Homo sapiens: one gene and its partners. The protein of the gene in region 3 interacts with the protein of the main gene of each other region in a biochemical or structural test. Each region holds a gene or a part of one and is shown on either strand. Other genes may lie near its edges. The genes, in order: ARF1, IPCEF1, CYTH2 and ALDOA.

The links.
Region 1: the proteins of CYTH2 (region 3) and ARF1 are reported together in a solved structure, tested with the Homo sapiens proteins (3 studies listed by BioGRID and IntAct, with this or other methods).
Region 2: the proteins of CYTH2 (region 3) and IPCEF1 form a complex in vitro, tested with the Homo sapiens proteins (one study listed by BioGRID).
Region 4: the proteins of CYTH2 (region 3) and ALDOA form a complex in vitro, tested with the Homo sapiens proteins (one study listed by BioGRID).

The regions. Positions count from the first base shown.
Region 1 is NC_000001.11:228,092,689-228,099,707, reverse strand, and holds the end of ARF1 (ADP-ribosylation factor 1), read right to left. Parts: intron 2,631-7,019; 5' UTR 2,594-2,630; coding exon 2,446-2,593; exon of another isoform or gene 2,367-2,445; coding exon 2,256-2,366; intron 2,118-2,255; coding exon 1,993-2,117; intron 1,857-1,992; coding exon 1,695-1,856; 3' UTR 496-1,694; downstream 1-495. UniProt on the Homo sapiens protein: Small GTPase involved in protein trafficking between different compartments. Modulates vesicle budding and uncoating within the Golgi complex. In its GTP-bound form, triggers the recruitment of coatomer proteins to the Golgi membrane.
Region 2 is NC_000006.12:154,353,795-154,361,598, forward strand, and holds the start of IPCEF1 (interactor protein for cytohesin exchange factors 1), read right to left. Parts: upstream 3,010-7,804; 5' UTR 2,878-3,009; intron 1,347-2,877; exon of another isoform or gene 1,273-1,346; intron 1-1,272. UniProt on the Homo sapiens protein: Enhances the promotion of guanine-nucleotide exchange by PSCD2 on ARF6 in a concentration-dependent manner.
Region 3 is NC_000019.10:48,465,363-48,472,376, reverse strand, and holds the start of CYTH2 (cytohesin-2), read right to left. Parts: upstream 3,009-7,014; 5' UTR 2,870-3,008; coding exon 2,851-2,869; exon of another isoform or gene 2,844-2,850; intron 2,739-2,843; exon of another isoform or gene 2,419-2,738; coding exon of another isoform or gene 2,334-2,418; intron 2,025-2,333; coding exon 1,877-2,024; intron 1,775-1,876; coding exon 1,708-1,774; intron 53-1,707; coding exon 1-52. UniProt on the Homo sapiens protein: Acts as a guanine-nucleotide exchange factor (GEF). Promotes guanine-nucleotide exchange on ARF1, ARF3 and ARF6. Activates ARF factors through replacement of GDP with GTP.
Region 4 is NC_000016.10:30,061,068-30,068,769, forward strand, and holds the start of ALDOA (fructose-bisphosphate aldolase A), read left to right. Parts: upstream 1-4,692; 5' UTR 4,693-4,860; intron 4,861-5,817; 5' UTR 5,818-5,830; coding exon 5,831-5,971; intron 5,972-6,166; coding exon 6,167-6,299; intron 6,300-6,382; coding exon 6,383-6,594; intron 6,595-7,578; coding exon 7,579-7,633; intron 7,634-7,702. Other genes in the region: uncharacterized protein LOC112694756, read left to right, coding at 2,662-2,775. UniProt on the Homo sapiens protein: Catalyzes the reversible conversion of beta-D-fructose 1,6-bisphosphate (FBP) into two triose phosphate and plays a key role in glycolysis and gluconeogenesis. In addition, may also function as scaffolding protein.

The DNA of each region.
Region 1 (7,019 bases), on a different chromosome or scaffold from region 3:
TGATGGCCCCATCCCAGAAACAGGTACCCCCAGACTGGCAGCCCCCTGCTGCATGGCATCTTGAGGAGAGGTGGGGGCTGTGCCCACTCAGGCAGGGACCATTCCCTGGTTGGCACAAAGCCCTATGTATGCTAGCAGTGGCCCTGCCCCATAGCCAGCTATACAAAGTGGGGTTCAGCAGCAGGCCGATGGAGGGAAGGACGGAGGCTGAGGTCTTCCATGGTGCCTGCTGACCCCTGCCCTGTATGGCCCAGGTCTCATTGGCTGGGCCCGACAGGACTGCAAACGAGATCAAGGTCACTGTGGGCAACCATGCTGGAAGAGCCTCTCACACAGACACAGAGAAGTGCCTGCACACTCAGGAGGGAACATGGGGAGGGTGTGGACTGAGGTGGCGGCCCTAGGCAGTCACCTGTACTTCCTAGAGTAAAGCTGGCTGATGCACCCACCATCTCCTGGGGGCAGCATGCCTGTGTGGAAGCACTGGAGAGCCGGTGAAATAGTTAAGAGATTTTATTCTAATAGCTATAATTACAGTGCTTGTTTGTCGAAATGAAAACTGAAAACAAGTATACAAAACAGTTGATTACTAATCGTGTATTGAAAGCAGTAAGAGGTTCCACGACACCAAATAGACCAGTTCTGAGGTTTCCCCAAGATAAATTTAACAGCTCCAGCTTCAGTGTTTATCAAAATACAAAAGAAAAAAGTAGAGGTTGTCTTTTTCGATGGCAAATCGGACCCTTGCAGGCTGAGGGAGAGAAAGCTACATCACACACAGAGGTGGGGTGCTCCCGAGGGGCTGTGGGTCTAGGTGGACCGCCTGCCCGGCTTGCACGCGCTCCTGCTGGTGAGGCCCCAGACATCCTGCCAAAGTGTCTGAGCGAGCACGAGTGTTGGGGACGACGGACCCACTCTGGCCACACGGCGACCGAGGGACAGATGGGGCCCTGCGTCCCATAGGCTGCCTGAAGGTGGGTAGGGCGGCCTGCGGCATAGTGGGGTGGCTGTGGGCTCCCAGCCTGGCCCCTGGGAACCGTGGGAGCACAGGGACAAGCACATGGCTATGGAATGCAGGGTGACCCAAGGACAAGCGAGTTGCGGGGATCTCTACTGTGACCATGCAGAATTGATCGCAGTCTGCTGCGCCACCACCACCTCATGTTCCCGAGGGGAACAGCTGGGCTGGCGACTGGCATCCAGGCCGTAACTGCAAATCTATGCTAGGCGGGGTCTCCCTTCTGTGTGTTCAAGTGTTCTCGACTTGGATTCTTAACTATTTTAAAAAATGCACTGAGTTTGGGTTAAAAACCAACCACCAAAATGGATTTCAACACAGCTCTAAAGCCAAGGGCGTGGCCGGCTCTCCCAACACAGCGACTCCTGGAGGCCAGGTGCCCATGGGCCTACATCCCCTCTCAGCACTGAACAGTGAGTTGATTTTTCTTTTTACAATAAAAAAAGCTGAGTAATATTGCATAGGAGTACCAGAAACTGCCTCATTGGAAACAAAAACTATTTACATTAAATAAAAAGCCTGGCCGCAGGCTGCGTCTGCCACATTTACAGCACGGTGCGATGCACACGGTGACCAAACCACGGAGGCAGCTTCTGGCACTCACACCACGAGCCGCACGTTTGCCACATGAGAGTAAAGCAGAGGGCAAGAGGAGTGAGAGGGAGGGGGGTCGCGTTCACTTCTGGTTCCGGAGCTGATTGGACAGCCAGTCCAGTCCTTCATAGAGCCCGTCGCCGCTGGTGGCGCAGGTGGCCTGAATGTACCAGTTCCTGTGGCGTAGTGAGTGCAGCCCCAGCTTGTCTGTGATCTCGGCCGCATTCATGGCGTTGGGGAGGTCCTGGGGGAAGGAAGGGTTGGTGGGAAGGGCTGTCCACAGGACAGAGAAAGGGGCCCCACCAGCCTCCAGTAACCCCTACCACCAGGCGGAACCCACACTGGCTCCTCACATTCCCCAGGCTGGCCCGGGCGCCTACCTGCTTGTTGGCGAACACCAGGAGGACAGCATCCCGGAGCTCGTCCTCGGCCAGCATCCTCATGAGCTCCTCACGGGCCTCGTTCACACGCTCTCTGTCATTGCTGTCCACCACGAAGATCAGGCCTGCCGGGCAGCCAGTGTCAAATGGTCATGGGAACACAGCCCCCCTGCCGCATCTATGGGCATCGATGCCCCATCTATGGGCTGGCCCCCCCTCTCTAGAAGCAGGAGTGCCCATGGGACCAGGCCCCAGCCACTTACCTTGTGTGTTCTGGAAGTAGTGGCGCCACAGGGGCCGGATCTTGTCCTGGCCACCCACGTCCCACACAGTGAAGCTGATGTTCTTGTACTCCACGGTTTCCACGTTGAAGCCTGGGTGCGGGATGCAGGGTGAGGCCTTGTACCTTGGCCCAGCCCAGCCCAGCCCACTCCCTGCTGGCCCCCACCTCACCTATGGTGGGAATGGTGGTCACGATCTCACCCAGCTTAAGCTTGTAGAGGATCGTGGTCTTCCCTGCAGCATCCAGGCCCACCATGAGGATGCGCATTTCTTTTTTGCCAAAAAGGCCCTTGAAGAGGTTGGCGAAGATGTTCCCCATGCTTGTGGACAGGTGGAAGGACACTGGCCAGGGACACCTGGAGAGACAAGGTGCTCCATGTCTGGTTCTGTGCTGCCCAGCAGTGGTTGCTCAGAACCCACCCACCCAGGGATGCACCACTGCCTCACCCCACCTCCTGGAAGCCTGCAGGGAAACAGGGAAAGAGCCCTGCCTCCCATGCCCCCCAAATCCACCTCAGGATGGGGGCTGAGGGAAAATGGCTGAGTCAGGAATTGAGAAACTGTTGCCCTCATCTTGGGAAGCTGTCCCCACAGCTGCATGGCCAGAAAGGCTGCCTCATCCCAGCCTATGCAGGAGGGGAGGCTGGCTGCCTGAGGACTGGCTTCCAGGTGCGTGCAAGGCTCCTCTACACCCCAACACAGAACCTTCCAGGGCCAGAGAGCACCACTCACTGTGCCTGCCCACACTCACAAGGACCAGAGCACACAGGGCCACGCCAGACTCAGCAGGACACCTTCAGGGACACACTCCCATGAGGACACAGCCTCGATGGGGCACGCCCGCCATGTCTGCCCCACACCGCAAGGGTAGGGGTTCCCTCAGCAGAACACAAATATCGGGGACAGCAATTAAGTCAGCTGGCACCCACCATCAGAGCCCTGCGGAGACTCCAGCAGGAAGGGCCTCCACTGCCCAGACGCCTCTGTGAGGACACTGAAGTTGTTAGGCTTTGGCCTCACTGGCCAGTGGGCAATTTCACGAATCAGGTGATTTTATCCCGAACAGGGACTTTAGAAAACACTGGTCACTTTCTGAAACAATGACTGCTTCTTCACTGCACCCGCAAGCGGGGCTTACCCCGAGTGAGGAAGGCTTCTGCCTTCAAGAGGACATGCCAGGAGCCTGTGAGCACACCCACCCCTCATCAGACCTCCTCCACCAGGGGTTCCACACACAGGTGGCTTTTGGCTGAATCACAGCCATGACTGTCCGCTGGTGACTCTCTCATCCAGTCACCCCAGCACGCTACGGCAAGGAAATGCCTCTTCTCCATTTCTCAACATCAGCAAGAGCCCACACATGCCTGTGTGTTTCAGTGGGTGTGAACTGGCCGCCCGTGTCTGATTTAACACTGCCATCATCCCAGATGAGCCACAGAACCCCTTCAAGCTGGATCAGTGTCCTTTGGACACTTTGCTCTTGGTTTTGAACATGTCACCTATTCTGAAATTTAAATGAGTTCTGAAATTTATAAGGACCTTCACTGTAGTGTTCCCTTTTTGGGGACGGCCAGGTTTTCTAAGCCCAGAGGAAGACCACCACCCATGGAGCACAGAAGAGACTGAATACCTGCCCTCTCAGTCCACTCCTGCAACCACTACCAATGAAGACACCAAAATGACACACACGCCTTGAAGGGCAGAGAGAAAAGGGAGGAAGACCTTGGATGTGATGATTGACCAGGCAGAGAAAACTGGACCGCCTGGGACCCAAGGGATGAAGCTGGGACTGCCTAGGGCAGCAATGTCCAATCTTGGCTACCCTGGGCCACAATGGAAGAAGAATTGTCTTGGACCACACACAAAATATACTAACACAACAGCTGGTGAACCAAACCAAAACAAAAACCCCCAAAATCTCAATGTTTTATTAGAAATTTGTGTTGGGTCGGGTTCAAAGCCATCCTGGGCCACATGCGGCCTAAGGGTTGGACAAGCTTGGTCTAGGGGAGCAGCTGCAGCAGGGCTTAGGCCTGCGCTGAGCCATGACAACACACTTGAGCCATGAAATTCCAGAATAATTCCTGAGAGTTCTATATGCCCCAGCAGATCCACACACAAGCAACTGGAGCTCCGCCCACCCCCACCCCCCACCAAGAGACAGGCCTGTCTGCCTTTGAAAGGCCACCAACATAAGAGACCCAAATATAAAAGGAATCTGCAAGGAGGCAACCAAGACAGGAGACTGAAGACAGAATACTATTTTAACAAAGGACAAGGAGAGAAACCTGATAGATACACAAATAGCTGAAAAGGAAAATTCAAAATGAAGGTGCTCAGAAGGCAGAACAAAAACAAACAGAATGAAAAAGGAAGATGAGGAGTAACTTAAGATATCAACCAACAGAAACCCTAAAAAGAAAGAACGTACGAAATTACGGGGTGAAATTTTTCCCTGTTCCAGAGTGGGGACCCAGGAATCTGGGCTTCGGCCTCAAAGGGCTGAAGCGCAAAGCCAAGGACCTAGATGAGACCCAATAAAGGTGCAAGGTGGACTCCAGAATGCACAGGGGCAAATGACACCTCTGATGCCCCAGAGAATGGAAGACTCTGAAACACTGCTTTCGAAACCCTTTAATTCTATACCCAGCCAAAGTATCCAACAAGTGTTAGGGGAGAATGAAAATAACTCCCAAACTGCAGGGCCTCAGATCTCTCACATGCTCCCTCCCTAAGAAGCTCCCCCAGGGAACCAGGGAGAGGATGCGAGCCCACAGCAACGTGGAGAGAGAGCAGCAGCCTAGCCAACCCCACATGGAGAGAGAGCAGCAGCCTAGCCAACCCCCTCAGACTGGAGCAGGAAGTGGACACCTGCAAGAATGGGGCACGCCACCTACGTATTCTTATTATGGGGTTGGGCAACTCTAGGCAATGCGGAAAAACTAATAATGACAGGTTCGCATGAAAAACCCAAGCATGAAATGGAACGAAAAGAGGGCCTTTTATGAGTTACTCCAGGAAAACATATGGTGGAGGATACTCAGGGAGTCCTGATGTTGTTATTACTAGGGGGTTGGAAAGCTGAGGCGAGGGTGTGTGGTGTCAAAGGCTTGTTAACTGTACAAGTTAACAAGTCTAGGAGGAATAAACCTAGGACACCAAGTCAGCAGGGACTCAGGAATAAGGGTCGCCTGCCAGTTGGGCAGAGGCAGCACCAGACTGCCACGACCACTGAAGCACAGCACTTGGGAGAATTGACAGTAACACCCAGCCACTCAGGGGAAGGGGTGTCACACCGTCACCAACCCCCTCGACCCCAGCACTGTCCGTGATCCACACATGCCTGCTGCCTCCTCATGCCCGGGGCAGTGCCGCCAACCATGCCCAGGAGATCATGCAGCCTGCAGGCAGTGGGGTTTGTGATGCCAGTAATCCCAGGCCCTCCCCATTGGTGGCTTTTTTTTTTTTTTTTTTTTTTGAGACAGAGTCTCACTCTGTCATCCAGGCTGGAGTGCAGTGGCTTGATCTCAGCTCACTGCAACCTCTCAGGTGCGATCTCGGCTCACTGCAACCTCTGCCTCCCAGGTTCGAGATTCTCTTGCCTCAGCTTCCCGAGTAGCTGGGACTACAGGCGCGTGCCACCACGCTGAGCTAATTTTTATTTTTATTTTTAGTAGAGACGGGGTTTCACCATGTTGGTCAGGGCTGGCCTCGAACCCCTGACCTCAGATGATCAGCCCACCTCGGCCTCCCAAAGTGCTGGGATTACAGGAGTGAGCCACCACGCCCGGATTTTTTTTTTTTTTTTTAACAGACCAAAGCGTTAAGAGTCCCCAAAGGAGGGAAGCCACCCTGCAATGGAATGGCAGAACCAGGATGGGTGAACCTGAAGTCTCAGGTGTCAAGACATCGGCACACAGACAGCTTGGTCTCTCCTACCGACAAGCACATCTGTGGCCCTGCTGCACATATGGGCAGAGGGTGGCTGGCACGTCCTGCCTCGGCATGTTCCAGCATCCCCACAGGACCCTATACCTGGCAGCCCCTACATCATTTACTGCTTCTGTGACAGATGGAGACCCAATAGAGTTTCCTAAGAGGGAGAAAGAGTCCACAGCAACCCCCACCCTCAATTCCAGGGCCTCTTGGTACGGGTCCTAACTTGTGTCATGCCCAGGCCAGGTGCTGTCACCCTTTCTTCCACCAGAGTCCCTGCACACAAGCCAAAACCCGCTTTTCAGGTTCATCGGAATTATCCTGTGGTAGGAGCAAACCTGACTTTCTCAGAGCCTTCCTGCTTGTACACAAGGGGACCCCTCACACTTTGAGAAGGGGCTGCCCAGCAGGAGGATGCCAGGAGCCACCAGTGGCTACTTCTCTTTCCTGACCACGCTGTGGGCTCCAACTCTGAGGAAAAAAAGTCTTTTAGGAAGAATGTTTCTTTCTTCAGTGAGGACCACAGACCAATGGTAAAGGTGGCCTTCAGGCATTACACCAAAGAACGGGACAGTCAACTCTGGCAGCTACATTCCCCGACACCTCACTGTGCCTGAACAGGGGCAGGGAGAAAATGTAGCTCTGTGAGTTCACATCCGTTTTGTGTCCATGAATGGATCCAACCAAACTGGTCCAGATGCACATGGGGTCCAGATGCCTCTGTGGCCTGTACCCAGACCACCAGCCAGTACTGTCCTCGGTCCCTTGCAGATCTCAGGGATACTTTGGCATGAGTCAGGGAAGGGAAC
Region 2 (7,804 bases), on a different chromosome or scaffold from region 3:
AAAGTTATGTTCCTCCTTTTTGGACTTAGCATTACATCATGAGACTATTTCCATAAATATCATTTTCTTGATGACATTTCTTTATATACCACCATGTGTTCAACCATTCTGATAACTAGGCTTATCATATTTATTTTAAATTAATGATTCTTTTAAAAACTCACTTTCACTTTACAAAATTCAGAAAATGCACAAAGCATAAAGAAAAAAAGAGAAATTAGAGATTAAATTTTTAAGCGTGGCTCTGGCAACTTGAAAACTGATATCGATAACTGCCATTTAATGCAATCATATTTTTAACCCTCACACAACAACCCAAAAAGTCAATATGTTATAGTCACCACTTTATAGGTTCGGAGGTCACAGAGCTGGTAGGTTCAGAGATATAGATTTTGAACAGATATGTCTGAGCCCCCAACTGTGTTTTCTCTTGGCTAAATTATACTGACCTTCCCATGATTACCTCCACCATTACCTCTACTACCATCACCTCCAACCACCATCTCCGCCATCTGTACCATCACCTCTACCATCACTTCCTCAACCATCTCCACCATGTCTACCATCACTTCTACCATCTGTCACCTCCACCGTCACCTCCAACCACCATCTCCACCACCACCTCCACCACCACCTCCACCATCTCCTCCACCACCACCTCCACCATCTCCTCCACAACCACCTCCACCATCTCTACCGTCACTTCCACCATCACCTCTACCACTCCAATCACCATTTCTACCATCTCCATTACCACCTCCACCATCGCCTCCACAACCACCTCTACCATCTCCACCGTCACTTCCACCATCACCTCCCCTACGACCACCACTTCCAACACCACCCCCTTTATCTCCACCTCCACCTCCACCACCATGTATCGCCAACCCTTTCACTTTACTGACCTGGGGATTTTTCTGATCCCCGTTCTACACACCCTTTCTTTACTCCACACCTTCATATTCTCCTCTCCTCCTCCACTCTGATCTTTTCTAACATTCACTTTTTAAAGTGCCTGAGTAACAGAGATAAAGCAATGGCTTTCCTACCACATTCATTTTATGAATTATGCCAGTTATTCATTCATTCAACAAATATTTACTGAGAGCAGGCACTGTTCTGAGCACTTGGGAGCACAAGTAACTCCTCCATTTGCAGGATTCTCTTTAAGGCTAAAAAGCTTATTTTTTAGGATTTTTCTTCACACACACACACACACACACACACACACACACACACACACACACACACCATTTGCCACATTAGACCTACTTGCAAATTGTTAACCTGTACTGCAATTATCAGCTCACACTGCAGAGCCTCCAAGCTGGATGGAAAGCAGAAGTGAGCTGTTCAAAAGGATGCACGAGTCAAAAGGAAAGTCTCAGGCAATAGTGATGAAGTAATTTCTTATCTCTTATTGCCACAGCAAACTACCGCAGGAAAGAACTTCCTATTTCCATACTCTGATGATGTATATTTGCTTAACACAGCTTGCCTGAAATAGTTCATACATGGACCCACTCCAGAAAAGACACTTGATTTATAAAAAGAGGAATGGAAGGAAATTATAAGGTAAATTAAAGAATGAGTTCATCAACACATACACAAACTTACACCCTTTTCTTCCTTGCTTGCATGATGTGAGCAGAAAGAAATGTGTGTTCTTTCCATTTCTGTTTCTTTTCTTTCTTTCTTTCTTTTTTTTTTTTGAGATGAACTCTTGCTCTGTCACCCAGGCTGAAGTGCAGTGGCGCAATCTCAGCTCACTGCAACCTCCGCTTCCCGGGTTCAAGCAATTCTCCTGCCTCAGCTTCCCAGGTAGCTGGGATTACAGGTGCATGCTCCCACGCCCAGTTAATTTTTGTATTTTTAGTAGAGACGGGGTTTCATCATGTTGGCCAGGCTGGTCTCGAACTCCTGACCTCAGATGATCCACCCGCCTTGGGCTCCCAAAGTGCTGGGATTACAAGCGTGAGCCACCGCACCCGGCATTCTATTTTCTATTTTCTTTTCTTTCTTTTTTTTTTTCTTCCTGTAGAGATGAGGTCTCATTATTTTGCCCCCAGGCTGGTCTCAAACTCCTGACCTCAAGTGATCCTCTCGCCGTGGTCACCCAAAGTACTGGGATTACAGGTGTGAGCCATTGTGCCCAGCCCTCGGTTTCAATTTTCTACATAAAATAAATAACTCGATAGAAATTAGACTTTATCAAGGACAGCACTAGGAACACATAGGCCACTCAAGACTAATAGAGCCCACTGCTGTAGTCAAAGATGCTTCAGTGGGTTATAATTCTGACTTCTATAATTAAATACTTTCACATATACCCCAGCAAAGAAAAATCAAGTGCCCCAGACACCCTTACTAAAAGACTCTGAACCAACAACACCTAGCTTTCATTTTTATACCAGAGATATTTTGGCAAGCCTGAGACCTTTATCAAAGTGTAAAATGTCCCCCAGCTGCCTCCATGCAAAGGAAGCTCCCTTGCAAAGAACACACTTTCTCGAAAGAGGGCGGCCCCAGAGTGCTTCCCCAAATGAACTCCTCAGGACCCAAATACATGCTGAATTGTGCTTTTCTAAATCAAACCTGTGGTCTGCAGTCTAAACACCTATCAAGACAACACCCATTTAAGAAACATAAAAGCAGAGTGAGTACACAACTCTCTCCTCTTTCAAAGCTTTCACAGAATTAAAGAATCTTTAGCACCTGGCTTCCCAGATTACAGAGAGCTGAGTGAATATTACATCCCCAAAGTCATATTTCCTACCTCACTACTCTAAGGAGAGTGCTAGGGTATCCATTGCTTTGCCATCTTGATCTGTCAAGCAGTTACCTCTCATACATCAGCCAAGAAGTGACGTTACTTACATGCAATACAAAGAGAGTAAATCCAAGAGCAGTCTTATTCCTGGATTCAGAAGCCTCATAGTACTCTGAGGCCAAGCTTGAGGATTCTACTTAAAGCAGCCTCAGCTCTGGAAACTCAGTCAACCCAGAACTAACATTCAAAGCTGATCAGAGAGTAAAGCTCTTTCGAAAGAAGAGGAAGTATCATCTCCACTTCCTCAATCCTAACGTTCTTCCTTCTCATTGTTATGAAACCCTTCCTTGATGCCCATATCCAGGACACAGTACATGTAAGGCAAGCACACCCCATCTGCCTGAGTTCATTGATCACTAAGCACTGCCCAGTGTATTCATTTGCCGAGCACATTGGTGGAACAGTTCATGGTTCTGCTTTCCTGTTTTGGAGGCAAGGATGTTCATTTACAGGCATGGAGGGTGAGATGATCTGCAGAGTCATTCTCAGCATTTTTGGGTGAAATGCCACTTCAACCTCTTTAGGTTCAATCTTCTTTCAGATTTCCCTCTTTCCTCCTTTCCTAATCGTTCATAATGCTCTAATAAAGAGAGGGTACAGACACATTTGTAAAACGTATTTTAGGATAAAAATAAGTCTTAGCCTGCCATCTTTTGCAGTAGACATAGAAGAGTCTCTAACCACAAAACTTTTCTTTCCCACATTGGAAAAGGAAAATGGCAGGCTGAAAGTCAGAGATATTCCATCTCATTACAAATTCCTGCCCTCCCAATCTCCCTTTCAACACCAGCTTCTTGTTTCTCTATACCTTCTAGGGAAATGAATACAGCTGGGCGTGGTGGCAGATGCCTGTAATCCCAACCACTCAGGAGGCTGAGGCAGGAGAATTGCTTGAACCTGGGAGGCAGAGGTTGCAGTGAGCCGAGATCGCACCACTGAACTCCAGACTAGGAGACAGAGCAAGACTCCAACTCAAAATAAATAAATAAATAAATATGTATGTGTATATATATATATAATATATATATATAATATATATATTATATATATATTATATATATATTATATATAATATATATATTATATATATATTATATATATAATATATATATTATATATATTATATATATATAATATATAAAATATATATATTATATATATAAAATATATATAATATATATAATATATATATAAAATATATATAATATATATAATATATATATAAAATATATATATAAAATATATATATATATAAAATATATATATATAATATATATATAAAATATATATATATAATATATATATAAAATATATATATATAATATATATATAAAATATATATATATATATATATATATATATATAGAATATATAGAATATATAGAAACCTAATCCCCAATGTGATTGTATTTAGAGGTGGACCTTTGGGGAGTGATTAGGTCATGAGGACAGTGCCCTCATGAATGGTATTAATTTTCTTATTAAAGAGAACCTGGAGATCTGCCCACCCCTCCACCATATGAGGACATGGCCAGAAGACAGTCACCTAGGAACGAGGAAGCAGGTCCTCACCAGACAATGAATCTGCTGGCGCCTTGATCTTGGATGTCCAGCCTCCAGAACTGTGAGAAATAAATGTCTTTTGTTTGTAAGCCACCCAGGCTACGGTGTTTTGATATAACAGCCTGAATGACTAAGACAAAGATAAAATGTAAACTAAATCTGTGGAGGAGTGAAAAAATGAAAGAAGATGCTGTACATTTTGAGCAGGAACAAAATGAAGGTTCTCTCAGCGGCTTCTTGTTTGTGTACACTTCTATTTCTGGAAGTGCTGCCTCATCTTCTCCCTATATTGAGTTGTCTTCTAGTTCCCTGCTTTACGTAGAAAAAAAAATGGTACTAGGTGATATTAAAGGAATTTAGTGGTATCAACAGCATGGCCTGGCTTCTCACCAGACATTTAGATGCCATCATCAAAGATATCCTCAAAAGACATGTTATTTACCTTTATGGGGCCAGAATAGAGCCACTTAAATTCTTTGAGCAAAGATGATTTGTAGAATTAGAATAATCCTCAAAACGGCCGGACTGTCAGTTCAAGATGACGGGCTGACCACAGATTTGCTCCCTCCCTCCCCAAAGACTCCGTTAAAATGAGAAAAGTATAAAAAGTTTATAGGGCCGGGCACGGTGGCTCACACCTGTAATCCCAACACTTTGGGAGCCCCAGGCTGGCAGATCATGAGGTCAGGAGATCGAGACCATCCTGGCTAACATGGTGAAACCTGTCTCTACTAAAAATACAAAAAATTAGCCACGCCTGGTGGCACGAGCCTGTAATCCCAGCTTCTCAGAAGGCTGAGGCAGGAGAATCGTTTGAACCTGGGAGGCGGAGGTTGCAGTGACCTGAGATCGCGCCACTGCACTCCAGCCTGGGTGACAGAGCGAGATTCCGTCTCAAAAGAAAAAAAAAGATATAAACCCACAATAACCCAAAAAAGGAGGAAAAGCATCAGAACTTGGGAGAGCACAACAGATTTCTGGCAGCCTGAAAGCCGATGGAGGAGCAATAACAGATGGAGGCAGGCAGGGGAACCACAATATCTCATTAGTTAGGAGAACACGGCGTTGGAGGAAATTGCCCGTGTGCGGTGCTGAATCCCTGAGAGGACCGGAACTCAAGCCAAAAGAAGCTAAGAGAGCTAAATGAGTGATAGGGTGACAGGACTGAAAACAGGAAGAGTAATTCAAAGTCTGTAAGAACTCAGCCCCTCCCATACCCCTCTTTCAAATCTCTCTGTCCGCCCAGCCTCTGCACAGCAAACACACACAATTCCAACCCCGGGCAGCATACCGAGGATTCGTCTCTACACATAGTGAAATCATGCAGAGAATACAGGCATTGTATGTGGATATGAGCACTCCACAGTCAGAACTCCACATTCTGGCAATAAGAGCCTCATCTAGCATGTGCTGGATGATGGATGATGTGCTTTTTTTTTTTTTTTTTTTTTTGAGACAGAGTCTTGCTCTGTCACCCAGGCTGGAGTGCAGTGGCATTAATTATCTCGGCTCACTGCAACCTCCGCCTCCAGGGTTCAAGTGATTCTCCTGCCTCAGCCTCCTGAGTAGCCAGGATTACAGATATGTGCCACCACACCCAGCTATGTTTTGTATTTTTAGTAGAGACAGTGTTTCACCATGCCGGCCAGACTGGTCTCAAACTCCTGACCTCAGGTGATCTGTGCACCTTGGCCTCCCAAAGTGATGGGATTACAGGCATGAGTCACCACGCCTGGCCTAGATATGCTTCTAATCAGTATCCTTAGAGACAGTCCTGAAGATATTGTATCCATTAAAAAGAACAGGATGCTAAGAAAGATAGATAATCTGAAAACAAGAAAGACCCCTTGGATATTGCAAATATAATTGTTAAATAAAGATTTTGATAGGTTGGGTGATAAATTCAAGTGAAATTTTCAGGAAATATTATTTGATGACATAGTCAAAGAAATAACATAAAGGATCCCCCTGAAGTCCAAGAATATTTAGATTAAAAAGTCTCATCGAGTGCCTAGGATGAAGAATTTCAAGTCACTGCAAAATTTCCAAACTCCGGAAATAAAGAGAAAATCTTAAAATCTCCCAAACACAGAAAATAAGTCACTTTCACAGAAACAAGGAATCAAAGGGCTCCAGATTTCACAGAAGTAGCATTAAGGGTTAGAAGGTCAGCGAGCACAGCCTTCAAAGTTCTGAAGGATTTATATTTCACTCTAGAATTTTGTGTTCATTCATCCAGTGTATTAGTCCATTTTCATACTGCCATAAAGAACTGCCAGAGACTGGGTAATTTCTAAAGGAAAGAGGTTTAATTGACTCTTATAAATTAAAGAGGTTTAATTCAGCATGGCTAGGGAGGCCTCAGGAAACTTACAATCACAGTGGAAGGTGAAGGGAAGCAAGGCGCCTTCTTCACAAGGTGGCAGGAAAGAGAAGTGCTGAGTAATGGGGTAAGAGCCCCTTATAAAACCATCAGATCTCATGAGAACTCACTCTCACAAGAACAGCATGGGGGAAACCACCCCCATGATTCAATTTCCTCTACCTGGTGTCTCCCTTGACACATGGAGATTATGGGGATTACAATTCAAGACGAGGTTTGGGTGGGGACACAAAGCCTAGCCATAGCATTCAGCAAATATTTTTGAGCACTGTGTCTAGGCAGTGAGGACGCAGCAGTGAACCAAATAAAGTCCTGCCCTCAGGGAACTTCTTTTCTCATGCTCAGATCAGGATGGTGTACTCTCTACACAAACAAAGAAAGTAAAATATAATGTGTTAGGTAGAAGTAAGTGCTAAGGAGGAAAAATAAATCAGCAGAGGAAATATATAGAGTCTAAGGAGAGGCTAAAAATTAGATGGGGAGGCCAGCAAAGGACTCACAAAGGTGACCTCTGAGTGACAGCCTGGAGGAAGTGAAGGCGTGAGCTGTGTAGACAGCTAAGGGAAGAGAAATCCGCAGACAGAGCCCCAAATGCAAACATCCTGCCACCCCCAGAGCCTTTTGGTGCCGCAGGAACAGCATGGGGGCAGGTGTGGCTGGAACAGAGCAGAGCGGGTCAGAGATGGAGAGGGGAGCCGGGGAACCCATGATTATGGTTAGGTCCTATGGGGATCGTTGTGAGAACTTGGGTTTTTGACTCTGACCAACTAAACCAGGAGCTGACAAACTATTTCTGGAACAGGCCAGATAGTAAATATTTTAGATTTCGTGGGCCAATCTCTGTTCAATTACTCAACCCTGCCATTGTGGTATCAAAGCAGCCATAGATAACATGTAAAAGAGCAGCTGTGCTCTAATAAAACTTTATCTAGGGCCACTAACATTTGAACTGCCTATAATTTTCACGCATCACAAAATCTTCTTCTTTTGATTTTTTTAAGCACCTAAAAATGTAAAAAACTGTCATA
Region 3 (7,014 bases):
TCTCCTCGGGTGTGTTCTGCAGCAGTTCATTCTCCACCAAGAACTGGATCCCCTGGTGGGTGGGGACAAGGTCTCAGTGCTGAGGGCCAGAAAGCCACCCCACTCACCTCCCTGGGAACCTCAGCATCCAGACCTACCCCCACCCTCAACAGACCAGGGCCAGGTTTCATTTTCAGCCTTCTCACAGGTCTTAAATAGCATTCTTCCCAACTCATGGCCTTTGCACTTCATGGCCTACCCTCTCTGCCTTTGCCTGGTTAATTCCAGCACCAACAACAGGGTCTGGCAAGGCACAGGTGCTCAGTACATTTTCTCTTTTTTCTGAGACCTGGTCTCGCTCTATTGCAGACTGGAGTGCAGTGGCGTGATCACAGCTCATTGCAGCTTCGAACTGCTGGGCTCAAGGGATCCTCTCACTTCGGCCTCCTCAGAAGCTGGGACTATAGGCATGCCCCAACACACCTGGCTAATTTATTTATTTATATTTTTTCTAGAGATGAGTTATCACTATGCTGCCCAGGCTGGTCTCAAATTCCTGGCTTCAAGCAATCCTCCCTCCTCGGCCTCTCAAAGCACTGGGATTACAGGCATAAGCCACCGAACCCAGCCAATCAATGTTTGTTGAATGACTGAACAGAATTCCAATTGCTTCAGGAAAGAATAACGTGACAACCTGTTAGCAGACGCAGTCCTTCAAGGGCTGTGAACTCGAAGCCCTGGCTAGACTGGAGGTTTCTCTCACTCTCTGTGCTACGAAGACCTCTCTACTACTGCTTTATCTCACTGTGAACTGTGGTATCGGTGTCCAAGGGCTCTCTGAGCACAAGGCAGCATCTAATTCTTCTTTGGGTCCCCAGCATTGCCCTACACAGGATCAGACTCTTGAGAGGCCTCAGAAAATGGGTGTTAAATGAGTATGTGAACAGGCCAGGCACGGTGGCTCATGCCTGTAATCCCAACACTTTGGGAGGCTGAGGCGGGCGGATCACCTGACGTCAGGAGTTTGGAAGCAGCCTGGCCAACATGGTGAAACCCCATCTGTACTAAAAATACAAAAATTAGCTGGGCATGGTGGTGGGAGCCTGTAAGCCCAGCTACTTGGGAGGCTGAGGCAGGAGAATCGCAGGAGGCGGAGGTTAGTGAGCCGAGATCACATCGCTGCACTCCAGCCTGGGTGATAGAGCAAGACTCTGTCTCACACACACACACAAAGAGTAGGTGAACAAAAGCCTTTCCTCCACCTGGTGAACACCTACTCATCCTTCAAACCCGACCTGAATGTCTCCTCCTCAAGGAAGCCCTCCCTGACTCCACCAGCCTGCCTCCTCCAGAGGTCCACTACCCTGATACCTTCCTCCGTCACGGCACCTTTGTGGGAGAGAGGTCAACTCTCCTTTGTGCATGTCACTTTGTCCACAGCCCCTACAAGACTCGAGCTCATCTTGGGACCAGAAATGCGCCCATACAAGTAGAAAGTGGAAGACGACCTTCCAGGCAGGGGACAAAACAGTCAGGAGGGCTGGAACACTTGGTCAGTGTTCAGTGTTCAGAAAACAAATGGACAGCCAGTATCTGAATCCAGGGATTAGGACCAAGTCTGTCCACCTAGAATAGACCCGGCACCATCACGCTTCTGGAACCCGGAGGTGCCAGAAGCCCCTGCCTGGATGTTTGCCCAGCTGATCCCAGTCCTGTGGCCCCAAGCACCTTCTTGGGGTCCATGTTGAACTTCTTCCTGCCCATTGCCATCTTCCGGTTCCGTTGCAAGGTCTTACTGCAGGAGCAGAGAGCAGGGTTGGGGGTGGAGGGTCAATGCCTGGGCATCCCTGGCCTCAGCCAACCCCACGCCCCCTAGGTCATCCGCCCCAGCCCTCACCTGCCCTCATTGGCCTCCAGCCCCTCCACCTCGCTCATGGCTTCACTGAGCTCCTCCCGCAGGCGCTGAATCTCCACCAGCAGCTCCTGCTTCCGCCGCCGGATGTTCTCCAGCTCCATCCGCTCCTCCGGAGTCAGGTCTGGGGGTTCTAGGGATCGGGGTCAAGGTTTAAAAGTCAGTGCTAGGGGCCGTGAGCCTGAATTCCTGCAATCTGGGGGCGGACAGAGCTGGGAGAGGATGTGTAAGGGGCTTCCTATGTCTGCACAGAAGAATGGGCTGGGGGCCTGGATTCCTCCCTGCAGAGGAGAAAGAGCTGGGGCTCTAAACTCTTGAGTCCTGGGGGACAAGGGGAATTGGGGCCCGGATTCCTGAGTCTGAGGGAGAAGGGGAATGGGTGCCTGAGCTCTTAGATCTGAGGGAAGAAAGGGCTGGGGGCCTCGGCTTCTAGGTCCATTACTTGGAAGGGGACTGAGGCCTTGGTTTTCTGACTCCATTACTGGCGAGGTAGCTGGGGACCTGGTTATCCGGACTACTGGGTCCATGAAAAGTCACTACAGCCGGGGGAACTGATGACAGCTCAGGAGAGTTGGGAAGGTGGGGCGGGACATCGAAGGCCCCCGCCCCCCAAGATTTCTCCCCTCCCCGCAACCCAAGCGCCCCTCCCCGGCCCCGGCAGGCGCTGGGCTCGCCCGCCCCTCCAGCGGGAATGGTTCCGCCCCGGCCTCGCCTCCACCACTCCATCCCGCCCCTCCCGCCGCCACCGGAAACAGGCTCAGCCCAAACAATGGCCTGGAACGCCCGGCTTTCGGGCCCCGCCGGAAGCCCGTCCAGCGCCCAACAAAAGCGGCGCGACAAGTCTACGACTGAGCCGAACGCTTCTGGGCGCCGCGCGCCAGGGGGAAACGTTCGCGGCGGAACGTTCAGGAGAAAACGCTCCAGCAACTCCCAGCCGACCCCGCCCCTCCCCGACCTACCATAGACGCCGTCCTCCATGGCGGCTAGGAAGGCCCGCGGGGAATCCGGGGCGGTCCCGCCAGTCGGGCCTGGATCCGCGTTGGCCCGCGGGCTCGGGTGAGCCCGCTCAAACGCCCCGGGAGCCACCGCCGCCTCCTCAGCGCCAGTCCTCAGCGCTGAAAAGACTCTTCCCTTCGTCGCCCAACCGCCCCTTCAGTAGGGACCGCCCCTCTTTTTGACACTGTCCAATCCACAGTGGGCGCTTTCGTCCTCCCCGCCCTCGCCACCAAAGGATCGTTCTCCAGGGCCAACAGTCGTACAAAAAGCCGGTGTAGGTATGTCCGGCCAGAGGTAGACGGCCCGCGGGGCCAATCGGAGTGCAGGCAGGGCAGCAGGCCCCGCCTCCGAAACAACAGAAAGCACTTGACAGGCTTGCTCTCCAATGAGAAGCCCCGGAAAAGTGTCGCGCGGAGGCGGAGCCACGCGGTACAGCCACCTCTGCGCCTGCTCAAAGGCCCTGGACACTTGGAGTCTAGGTAAACCGAGCCCCGCCTCCGATAATACGTTGCTAGGGGGCGGTACTTTGTTAGTCTTGTTGCTAGGAGGCGGGGCTAGAACTGGCTTGTTTCCGTAAGCCACACCTCCTAGCAGGCCATGCTGGCTTCTGACCGCAAAGGTTGCCATGCAACCGGGAGCGGCTTTAGGCCTCCTTTTCTTTTGCATTTCTTCTCCGCGTATTTCCCCTCCTCTCAGCCCCTTCTTACCGCCGAACTCCTTCTTTATCACCATCTATGCCCTCCCCATCCCCCTCAGCCTCTTCGGAGTCGTGGAGTGGTGAAACAAAAGACTTCTTCGTTTTTTCTTTTTTTTTTTTTTTTGAGACAGAGTCTTGCTCTGTCGCCCAAGCTGGAGTGCAGTTGCGCGATCTCGGTTCACTGCAACCTCCGCCTCCCGGGTTCAAGCAATTCTCCTGCCTCAGCCTCCCGAGTAGCTGGGATTACAGGGTTGCACCATGATGGTGCATGCCTGGCTATTTTTTGTATTTTTAATAGAGACGGGCGTTTCACCATGTTGGCCAAGCTGGTCTCGAACTCCTGACCTCATGATCCGCCCACCTTGGCCCTCCAAAGTGCTGGGGTTACAGGCGTGAGCCACCGCGCCTGGCCAAGATTTACTTTTTTCTAAATGCTATGCTATTTGGTATCGGTCATGGGGAATGGAACAGGGGAAGGTGAAATTTAGTGAAAGCACAGGCTCGGCCTTCCTGGCACCTTCTGCCGCTCAGACTCCTCCCTCATTTCTCCAAACTCCTTCCTTTAGCTTAGCATCCTCCTAAGACTCCTCCCTTCCCCAAGCATCCTCCTGCTAAGACAACTCCCCTTTCCTCAGCATCCTCCCACCTCTCTGATTCCTTCTCCCATCTCAGAGGCCTTTTTTCCTCTCTGGCTCCCCTCACGTCACGGTCCCCCTTGTCCTCTCATACTCTTGCCCTTTTTTTTTTTTTTTTTTTTTTTGAGACAGAGTTTTGCTCTTTTGCCCAGTCTGGAATGAACTGGCATGATCTCAGCTCACTGCAACCTCCACCCACAAGGTTGACGCGATACTCCTACCTCAGCCTCCCAAGGAGCTGGGATTATAGGCGCCCACCACCATGCCCGGCTAATTTTTGTATTTTTAGTAGAGACGGGGTTTCGCCATGTTGGCCAGGCTGGTCTCAAACTCCTGACCTCAGGTGATCCACCCGCCTCAGCCTCCCAAAGTGCTAGGCGTGAGCCACCGTGCCCATAGGCGTGAGCCACCGTGCCCAGCCACCCTTGCCCTTCTTAAACTCCTCCCTCCTCTGAGGCCCCTTCCCCTTCCCCTTCCCCAGCCTCTATGTCCCATTATTTGTAACGGAATGTGGTCAAGGGACTGGCTGGAATAGGGAACCCAGGCACCCCTGTAAAGAGGGAAGCCGTAATGGGGGCTGAAGTGGTGTCTGGGCCTCGTCCTCATTTGCTGTCCCTGGGCTGGGCAGGTGGAGACGGATTCAGGGCCAGGACCTAGTTAAGCTGTCGGATTAGACATGGAGGCTCCTAATCCCCTCACTGACCTTTATGAGTGGCCCAGGCCCTGCCCTCCCCAGTGGAAACCCAGGCTGGGCTGCCCTGCTCCCATACTCCTTTCAAACGAAACCCCCTCCCTGCCCCTTCACTTCCAACTTAACATCCTTCCCCAACCCTGCGTTTCCATTGCCCCCATCCCTACCTACCCCAGACACCCTGAGCTGAGAGAGCAGCCAGCTAATTAATCCCATCCGGTTATTACATGGGGATTCTGAGGGATAAAGGGAGATGGAGAAGCTGGAGGGGGCATTTGGGTTGATGCAGCACTTGTGAAGGCTGAATGGCAATGACAGTGGCTGCCCTCGGTCCAGAACACGGGGTGGGAACACGTCCTCCTCACTGTCACTGGCTCCCTCTGCAGTTGGCTCCCAGCCTGCGGGGCACTTAGGTAGATGGTAGCATGGGCAGGGGGCCAGGTCGGAGGACCCATGCTCGAGAAACACATTCGCAGACACATCCGCTAGGGCTCCCAGTTCTTTAATCTGGGGGACAGGTCTCCCCCTAAAACACTCACTCTCCCACAATGGGAAGAACCCTGGTGTCCAGAGCTACCTCCTCCTCCCCAGGTCCCCAAGCTAGGCCAGGGAAGTGACTCTGGCTGTTAGCCACAGCCCACGCCTACCCTTGCCCTGTGATTCAGACACCCGAGTTCAGAGCCAGCCTCCAAGAGTATCTTACATCCCAGCGTCTCCTGGAAGGCCGTATGATCCAGCACTGGGGAGAGGAGGGAAATCCCCAGGACTCGAATGCCCATCCCACCCTTGGTGTAGTGAGGACTCATCCTGCTGGAAAGGCCCCTGAAGAACTTCAAGTTCCAATATCCCGTTTTTACAGATGGGGAAACTGACATGAAGAGGAGTCCAAAGTGACACAGTAAGTTGGGGCAGCATTGGGATTTAGAGCAAAGCTTCTGGGGTCCTTGAAAAGGACCTCATTCCAATTAGCTAGCACTCCATCTCTAAGCCTGTTGTAGGGACCAAGGGAAAAAATAGATAGATATCTGTATTTATATTACATATATATAATATACATATGTATAATATCTTTAAGAAACAGACACACGGCTGGGCATGGTGGCTCACACCCGTAATCCCAGCACTTTGGGAGACCGAGGCAGGTGGATCATCTGAGGTCGGGAGTTCAAGACCAACCTCGCCAACATGGCGAAACCCCGTCTCTACTAAAAATACAAAAATTAGCCAGGCATAGTGGCTCATGCCTGTAATCCCAGCGACTCAGGAGACTGAGGCAGGAGAAACACTTGAAGCCGGGAGGCGGAGGTTGCAGTGAGCTGAGATCACGCCATTGCACTCCAGCCTGGGCGGCAGAGCGAGACTCAGTCTCAAAAAAAAAAAAAAAAGAAAAAGAAAAAGAAATAGACACACATCACTAGGTGTAGGGTTCCAGAGCATTCTAGACTCACCAGCCCTGGGCCTCCCCCTTCCCTTGTCCACTAATTAGCCCTGTGCCCTACAGGGTCTCACCTTCACCTTCACCTTCCAGGTCAGGCCAGAAATGTTGCTTCTGAAGTCCTGAGTCCACCTCCTAGCACTGCCAAGCAGTCCACCTGGAGGTGATGAGAACTTCCAGGCTTTGGTAATGGACAACTCTGTATCCCTGGAGCCTTCATTCCTTTTGGCATTACAGAACCACAAGAAGTCATCTAGAATCATTGAGATTCTCAACTCCATTGGGCAAACTGGAACCAGCAAAATCTCAGATATCTAGAATTGCCACTGCTTCCTTGACTCTGTGATCAGTCTACAGCCACAGAATCCTGATTCCCTTTGGACATTCTAGAATGGCACTTTAAAAAAAAACAACCCACCCAGTGGATCCTTTCAAAGCACTGCTTATTCTCTTGGCTGGGTGCTCTACAGCCAGAAGTTGGAGTTATCTAATATCAAGAACTCTTAATCTGTCACTTCAGTCTTTCTAAACCCACAGACTAACAATGTTTTGTGCATTCTAGAAACATTACTCTTTAGTTTCTGGAGTAGTTCAACTCTCCACGTAAAATCTGTCCTAGACTCACCAGTGCTTGCCTCTGTGGTCAACCTAGACTCACAGAATCTCAAC
Region 4 (7,702 bases), on a different chromosome or scaffold from region 3:
GAGCCAATCTTCTGTCACACAGCCATCCTGGGCCACTTCAGCCATTTGGCCTGACTCCAGCCCATGCCTAAGGCAGTTGCGGGTCATCCCTGTCCCAGGGGAGGACAGCAGTGCACTGGATAGACCAGTTCTCCCTTCTTGTCTCTAAGGACACGCTGCTCCTATTCCCCAAAGAGACAGACATTGTTTCCTCCAGGAGCTGAGAAGCCCTCTTCTTTCTTCTTTGCCTAAAGAAGGCAAATGATATGCTTAGATTCATCCATTCATTCAGCATTCATTTATATCTCAGACACCTGCTGAGCATGAGTCCAGTGCTAGCTCAGTGGAGAATATGGGATGAGCTGCCCCTGCCCTGGCAGACCCAGAGAGAGGCTGATGCTCCTGGCACTGGGAGGCAGAGGGCTCAAGAGGGATTGCAGGCAGGACTGTACATCCCAGCTCCATTCCCATCACTTGCCTCTCTGTCTATGCCTCCATTTCCTTTTTTTTTTTTTTTTTTTTTTTTTTTTTGAGGCAGAGTCTTGTTCTGTTGCCCAGGCTGGAGTGCAGTGGGTCGATCTCGGCTTACTGCAACCTCTGCCTCCCAGGCTCAAGCGATTCTCCTGCTTCAGGCTTCTGAGTAGCTAGGATTACAGGTGCACCCCACCACGCCCAGCTAATTTTTGTGTTTTTAGTAGAGAAGAGGTTTCGCCATGTTGGCCCAGCTGGTCCTGAATTCCTGACCTTAAGTGATCCGCCCACCTTGGCCTCCCAAGTTGTTGGGATTACAGGCATGAGCCACCATGTCTAACCATCCATTTTCTCTTTTGTAAAGAAGCCCATTACTCAGGATTCTGGTAATTAAAAAATATAAGGCTGGGCGCGGTGGCTCACACCTGTAATCCCAGCACTTTGGGAGGCCGAGGTGGGCGGATCACCTGAGGTCAGGAGTTCGAGACCAGCCTGACTAACATGGTGAAACCCTGTCTCTACTAAAAATACAAAAATTAGCTGGGTGTAGTGGCGGGCGCCTGTAATCCCAGCTACTCAGGAGGCTGAGACAGGAGAATCACTTGAACCCGGGAGGCAGAGGTTGCCCCAAGCTGAGATCCCACCATTGCACTCCAGCCTGGGTGACAGAGCAAGACTCCGTTTGAAAAAACAAACAAACAAATAGATCTAATTCTTTTGAAAACATTAAAATTGATTGGGCGCAGTGGCGCATGCCTGTAATCCCAGCACTTTGGGAGACCAAGGTGGGTTTAGCCCAGGAGTTTGAGACTAGCCTGGGCAACATGATGAAACCCTGTCTCTACAAAAAAATACAAAAAATGAATTAGCCAGGCGTGGTGGCACGTGCCTGTAATCCCAGCTACTTGGGAGGCTGAGGCAGGAGAATCGCTTGAACCCAGGAGGCGGAGGTTGCAGTGAGCCGAGACCGCGCCATGGCACTCCAGCCTGGCAACAGAGCGAGACTCCGTCTCAAAAAAAAAAAAAAAAAAGTACAAAAAATGAGCCGAGCACGGTGGTTCATGCCTGTAATCCCAGCACTTTGGGAGGCCAAGGCGGGCAGATACCTGAGGTCAGGAATTCAAGACCAGCCTGGTCAACATAGCGAAACCCTGTCTCTACTAAAAATACAAAATTAGCCAAGTGTGGTGGCACATGCCTGTAATCCCACCTACTTGGGAGGCTGAGGCAGGAGAACCGCTTGAATCCAGAGGTGGAAGTTGCAGTGAGTGGAGATCACGCCATTGTGCTCCAGCCTGGGCAACAGGAGTGAAACTCCATCTCGGAAAAAAAAAAAAAAAAATGGCCGGGCACAGTTGCTCACTCCTTTAATCTTAGCACTTTGGGAGGCTGAGGCAGGTGGATCATCTGAGGCCAGGAGTTCCGAGACCAGCCTGACCAACATGGTGAAACCCCCATCTCTACTACAAATACAAAAATTAGCTGGGTGTGGTGGCTCACGCCTGTAGTTCAGCTACTCAGAAGGCTGAGGCAGAACTACTTGAACCCAGGAGGTGGAGGTTGCAGTGAGCCAAGATCGCACCATTGCACTCCACCCTGGGCAACAGAGTGAGACCCTGTCTCAAAAAAAAAAAAAAAATTAAAAATAGGTAAATTGCCATTTTCAAAGATACCTGTAAAGATTTTTAAAATCATTCATGAATGCGGTCTGTTCGTTGCACAGAGTAGATGCTCAAAAATGGTGAATGAGACCCTCTATTTTGGTCTCATGCTGAAGAAGTCCATAAAGCCCACAAGTCATTTTCATGATGGACAGAAAAATGTGTGTGCTTTCTCTGTCTACTGCCTCAACTGCACAGACCCCGGGACTGTAGCAGAACCATCTTTTGAGCTTGACACCGGGAGGCCCAAATTCTAGCACGGGACCCAGGGCCAGTTGCTCTCTGGTCCTCAGTCTCCTCACCCATAAAATGGGAAGGAGAGAACCCTGAATCATTGCTTCTAGCTTCTGAACTCAGTTGTTCAGAACAAGGACTCACTGCTGATTTTTCAACAGCACAGGGAATTGCACTGTTCCTGGGAATGATGGACAGTACCCTCTGTTCCACTGGGCAAGTGAGATTTCCCAGGCCTCTCTGTTCCCTTCTCCCCTTAGAGAGCAACAGACGTGGCCCCATCCCACCTCCCTCAACCCTCTCTCTCCTCCCTCAGGACTGGGCACCTCGCTGCCCCCGCTGCTGCCCACTCTGCGACTGTGCCTGTACGTGCCAGCTCCCCGACTGCCAGAGCCTCAACTGTCTCTGCTTCGAGATCAAGCTCCGATGAGGACCCAGGGCCCCTGCCCTCTGGGGAGCGGCCAGCCCCCAGGGCCCATGTGCCCTCCTCCCTGAAGAGCCTTTCCCCACGCCACTGGAACCACAGATGGCCTGCCGAGCACCCAGGCCTGGGAACTGGAAGTGGCAGCGCAGGGCCTGGCTCCCTGCAGGGCAGGACTCTTGGCCGGCTGGACGGCAGCTCCTCTGGAGGGCCAGAAAAGAGAGGGGCTAGTGCTCGGGCAGGTGCCCTGGCTTCCCTTCCCCTCCACACGTCAACGATTCTATTTGAAGTTGGGCAGGGGGGTGGCGCTGCTCACCACACACAAGTGTTATAGGAGGAGTCTGGCCCTTGAGTACCGGGTACGCAGGGGTGCCTCAACCACACTCCGTCCACGGACTCTCCGTTATTTTAGGAGGTGAGTGTAGTGCCAGTATCTACTCTCCTTCTTAAAAAAAACCAGGGCTCCAGAGAATCAGAACAGCCACCATCACCGCAGGGAGTCAAGGGAGGAGGGAGATTAGAGAAGGAGCCAGGGAGGGTGGCAGGGAGGCCACGTGATCCGAGTCCCCTCACCCCTTTCCTTCCCACAGGTCCCTGGCCAAAGATTTATTTCTCTTGACAACCAAGGGCCTCCGTCTGGATTTCCAAGGAAGAATTTCCTCTGAAGCACCGGTGAGTGGGCAGGGGCTCCCTCCCCATCAATAGGGCCGACCCAAGTCTTCCTCCCCCTTCCCCCATGCCGGGCCCCACGATAGTGTGAATGTCAGGGGCTTCAGGTTTCCCTAAATATAGGTCCCTGCCAGAGGATCCGTGGCGGGAAAAGGGCAGGGGTCATTAGAGAAGATCGGGGACACATGTGGGGCGGGCAGGAGCTGCCTTATAACCAGCCCGGGAACCCCTAGCTCACTCGCTGCTGACCAGGCTCTGCCGGCTCCTTCGGCCTCGCCGCAGGTGGGCCCCTTGCAGGACCGGGCCGGGGTGGGGATGGGGTTGGGGTTGGGCCAACAGGGTCCAGATGGGGTCCAGGTGAGGAGGGGAGATTTGGACGATAGGAGCAGGGGGCTCAGCATCTGGGAGGCAGATCAGTTCGGGGACGGATTTTCTTTTGGAGAAGGAAGTCAGGCTCAAGGAAGACGTTTGGCAGGAACTGTGACCCCGCATGCCAGAGGCCGAGCAGCGGCCGGTGCATAGCCGCGCATTCTGGTTTTCTGTGGCGCAGAGGACTACCAGCCTGGCTGCGGCGGCCCGGCGGAGAGCGCGCACGCATGCGCGACCCAGCCCGGCCTGCCAGCCTGGAACTCGGATGGGGAGGTCTCGCCTCCGCGCGCCGCTAGTTCCGCCGCCTTCTCGCGCTCCCTGCGTGTCCTCTCGATGCCCTTTCCTCCGCCTCCCTTACGCCTGGGCCAGTGACAGGGTGTCGGCTCCGCGCCGATTCAGCCCGCGGGCGAGGCAGGCTAACGCACGACTGCGCGATGTGGCCCCTATGGTGACACGCGCTGCAGCCGCGAAGACCGGAAGCTGGGGCGGCCCCGGGCCGCGCGCGCTGGGCCTGGGAGGCGAAACTCAGCTTCCTTCGTTTCCGACTTTTCCATCCGCGTCCTCCACTTCCCCGTTCCGCCCTCCCCCATTGCCAACATTCTGGCTGAGTCACGGCGCCCCAGAGCGCGCCAGGCTGGGGGAAAGGAGCAGAAGGGAGGGCCCTAGCGACCCGCGGGATGTGGTCCGAGTCACGTCCGAGGGGGGTGGGGAGGGATCGTGTTCTCGGCGCCCGCCCCTTCCTAGCGCGGCCTCTGGGCTGCGCCTCTCGGGGGCGGCCCGTAGCCCAGTCCGTCGCCTGCCATTGGACGCCGCCCGCTCCTCGTAAAGGAAAAAGCTCGGCGGAGGGCGGAGTGGTGCCTTTAAAAGGCCGGGCGCCGCCTTCCGCCTGCCCGCCTCCTGCGCCGCCCCTTCCGAGGCTAAATCGGCTGCGTTCCTCTCGGAACGCGCCGCAGAAGGGGTCCTGGTGACGAGTCCCGCGTTCTCTCCTTGAATCCACTCGCCAGCCCGCCGCCCTCTGCCGCCGCACCCTGCACACCCGCCCCTCTCCTGTGCCAGGTGAGCGCCCCTCTTCACGTGCGGGGACCAGGGACCGTGGAGAGGGATCTTGGGGGCAGTGGCGGGTTGGGCGTCCGCGTGGAGGCCTCCCCCATCCCATGCCAGCGTCTCCCCACTACCAGGCACACACAGGCTCCCCGGCCCCTCCAGCCTGAGGTCCTCTAACTGCGCAATGCAGCGGCTGCGCGCGCTGAGTCATGGCGGGGGAGGAAGCCGGACGAGATGAAGGACCATTCTCCCCCTTTTCTTGCAGGGACCCCTGTGGCAAAGGATTAGGGCCCCTTAGCCCTGGCGGGGATCCTAAGAGGCAGTGAGGGGTGGGGGCCGGCCCATGTACAGCCCCAGGGTTCTCGCAAGTGGGAGCTTGGTTTCTGTCCTGGGAAACGGGGCGCCCTTCGCGAGGAGGGAAACCCCTCCGCGGTGCTTGATGCCCCCTTAACACTTTCCCTGTCTCTCCTTATCGGGCGACCTTGATTCTGAGCCCGGAACAGCTGCAGCCATGCGAAGCGACGGGAGCATTTTTCAGGGGAAGGCGCTTGCTCCTCCACGTTCTTGCCCCGTAGGAACAGTGACGATGGCAAAGCTTACCGCTTTCCTCGCCTCGGGCTAGGGCTTGTTCCGCCGCCCTTTCCTGGGCTTCTCCTTGCTCTCTTATATTTTTCCTAATGCCCCTTTCCTACCACCCGCCCCCTCCCTTGTGGGGAAAAGCCTGACCTTGGGATGTCCTTGAAGCCTTGGAGCCCGGGCCAGCCCTGGGATCTTGAGGGGATTGGAAGGAACACCCCAGTGGCAGTCAGAAGAGCTGGGTTCTAATCTCAGATCTGGCTCCGGGGTTGCTGTGTGGCTTGAAGCACAGACCTTTCCCATATCTGGGCCCTTTCCCACGAGGGTGTTGGGCCCTCTGCTTGATTCACGATCTTTACATTCTAAAATACTCCGGTTCGGTTTTGTTTTCAGGCAAGGTGACCCCATGGCAAGGCGCAAGCCAGAAGGGTCCAGCTTCAACATGACCCACCTGTCCATGGCTATGGCCTTTTCCTTTCCCCCAGTTGCCAGTGGGCAACTCCACCCTCAGCTGGGCAACACCCAGCACCAGACAGAGTTAGGAAAGGTACAGGGGCAGGCCTAGCAAAGGGAAGTTGGGCGTAAGAGAGAGCTGGGGACCAGAAGTGCCCCAGGGCCTGCTGGGTGTGGGGCAGGGGAGGTAGGGAACATTTCCCTGACCTCCAGGAGAGGGGCCCTGGTCATCGGGAGATGATGGGAAACCCTAGCTAACTAGTCCTTCCCCTCTGTTTCCTGTATCCAGGAACTTGCTACTACCAGCACCATGCCCTACCAATATCCAGCACTGACCCCGGAGCAGAAGAAGGAGCTGTCTGACATCGCTCACCGCATCGTGGCACCTGGCAAGGGCATCCTGGCTGCAGATGAGTCCACTGGTGCGGGCAGGAGACAGAATGGGTGGAGGGTGCAGGGTTGGGAGTGGCAGGCTGATCCCCTAATTCCCATGTGACACTCCCAGGGAGCATTGCCAAGCGGCTGCAGTCCATTGGCACCGAGAACACCGAGGAGAACCGGCGCTTCTACCGCCAGCTGCTGCTGACAGCTGACGACCGCGTGAACCCCTGCATTGGGGGTGTCATCCTCTTCCATGAGACACTCTACCAGAAGGCGGATGATGGGCGTCCCTTCCCCCAAGTTATCAAATCCAAGGGCGGTGTTGTGGGCATCAAGGTAAGGGGAGGGCCTCCGGACGTGAGGTTTGAGATGGAAGTGGAGGAAGGAAATCCAGGTTAGTGAGGCAGGGAATGAATGCTGGATTGGTGGCCTAGAGACTTGCATGGAGCCTGCTTCAGGCTTAGGGCATTTACTCGACATTTTTAATCCTCACAATTCTGAGAGAACAGTATCATTCCCACTTTACACATGAAAATCTCAGAAGCTCAGGGAAGTGAAGTGTTTTGCTCAGAGTAAGTGGCAGAGCCCCAGTCTGACACCCAATTCACTCAACATTTCTGTTGTCAAATAACATCCCAGTGTATCCTGTCTCAGAGGATTGTTACTAAGTGAACTAAGTGAAAATATTTTAATTTAATTGTAACTAAGTATTTGAGTAACTAAACATTTTAAGTAAATTTTTTTTTTTTTTTTTTTTGAGATGGAGTCTCGCTGTCTCCCAGGCTGGAGTGCAGTGGTGCGATCTCTTGGCTCACTGCAAGTTCCGCCTCCCAGGTTCACGCCATTCTCCTGCCTCAGCCTCCCGAGTAGCTGGGACTACAGGCGCCCGCCACCACCCGGCTAATTTTTTTTGTATTTTTAGTAGACACTGGGTTTCACCATGTTAGCCAGGATGGTCTCGATCTCCTGATCTCGTGATCTGCCCACCTCGGCCTCCCAAAGTGCTGGGATTACAGGCGTGAGCCACCATGCCCGGCTTAAGTAACTAAATATTTTAATTGTAACTAAGTGAAAATATTTGCCAGCCCTGAGATGCAGTTTAAGGGATTAAGTAAATGTGGGGGAAGACTGGGGCTAAAGAAGAGGAAAGAGGGGCACGCCCAGCTACCTAGGAGGCTGAGGCGGGAGGATCACTTGAGTCCAGGAAGTGGAGGCTTCAGTGAGCTGAGATTCCACCACTGTACTCCAGCCGGGGCGACAGTGGAAAGGGTGCTAGAGGTCATTTCCTGTGTCTTAATGTTGTTACCCTGACCCCAACAGGTAGACAAGGGCGTGGTCCCCCTGGCAGGGACAAATGGCGAGACTACCACCCAAGGTGAGAACTGTTTGATTCTCTGCCCTACGAACCCAACCAGAGCAGGTTTGGGTGCTGGGAGGAGTGGAA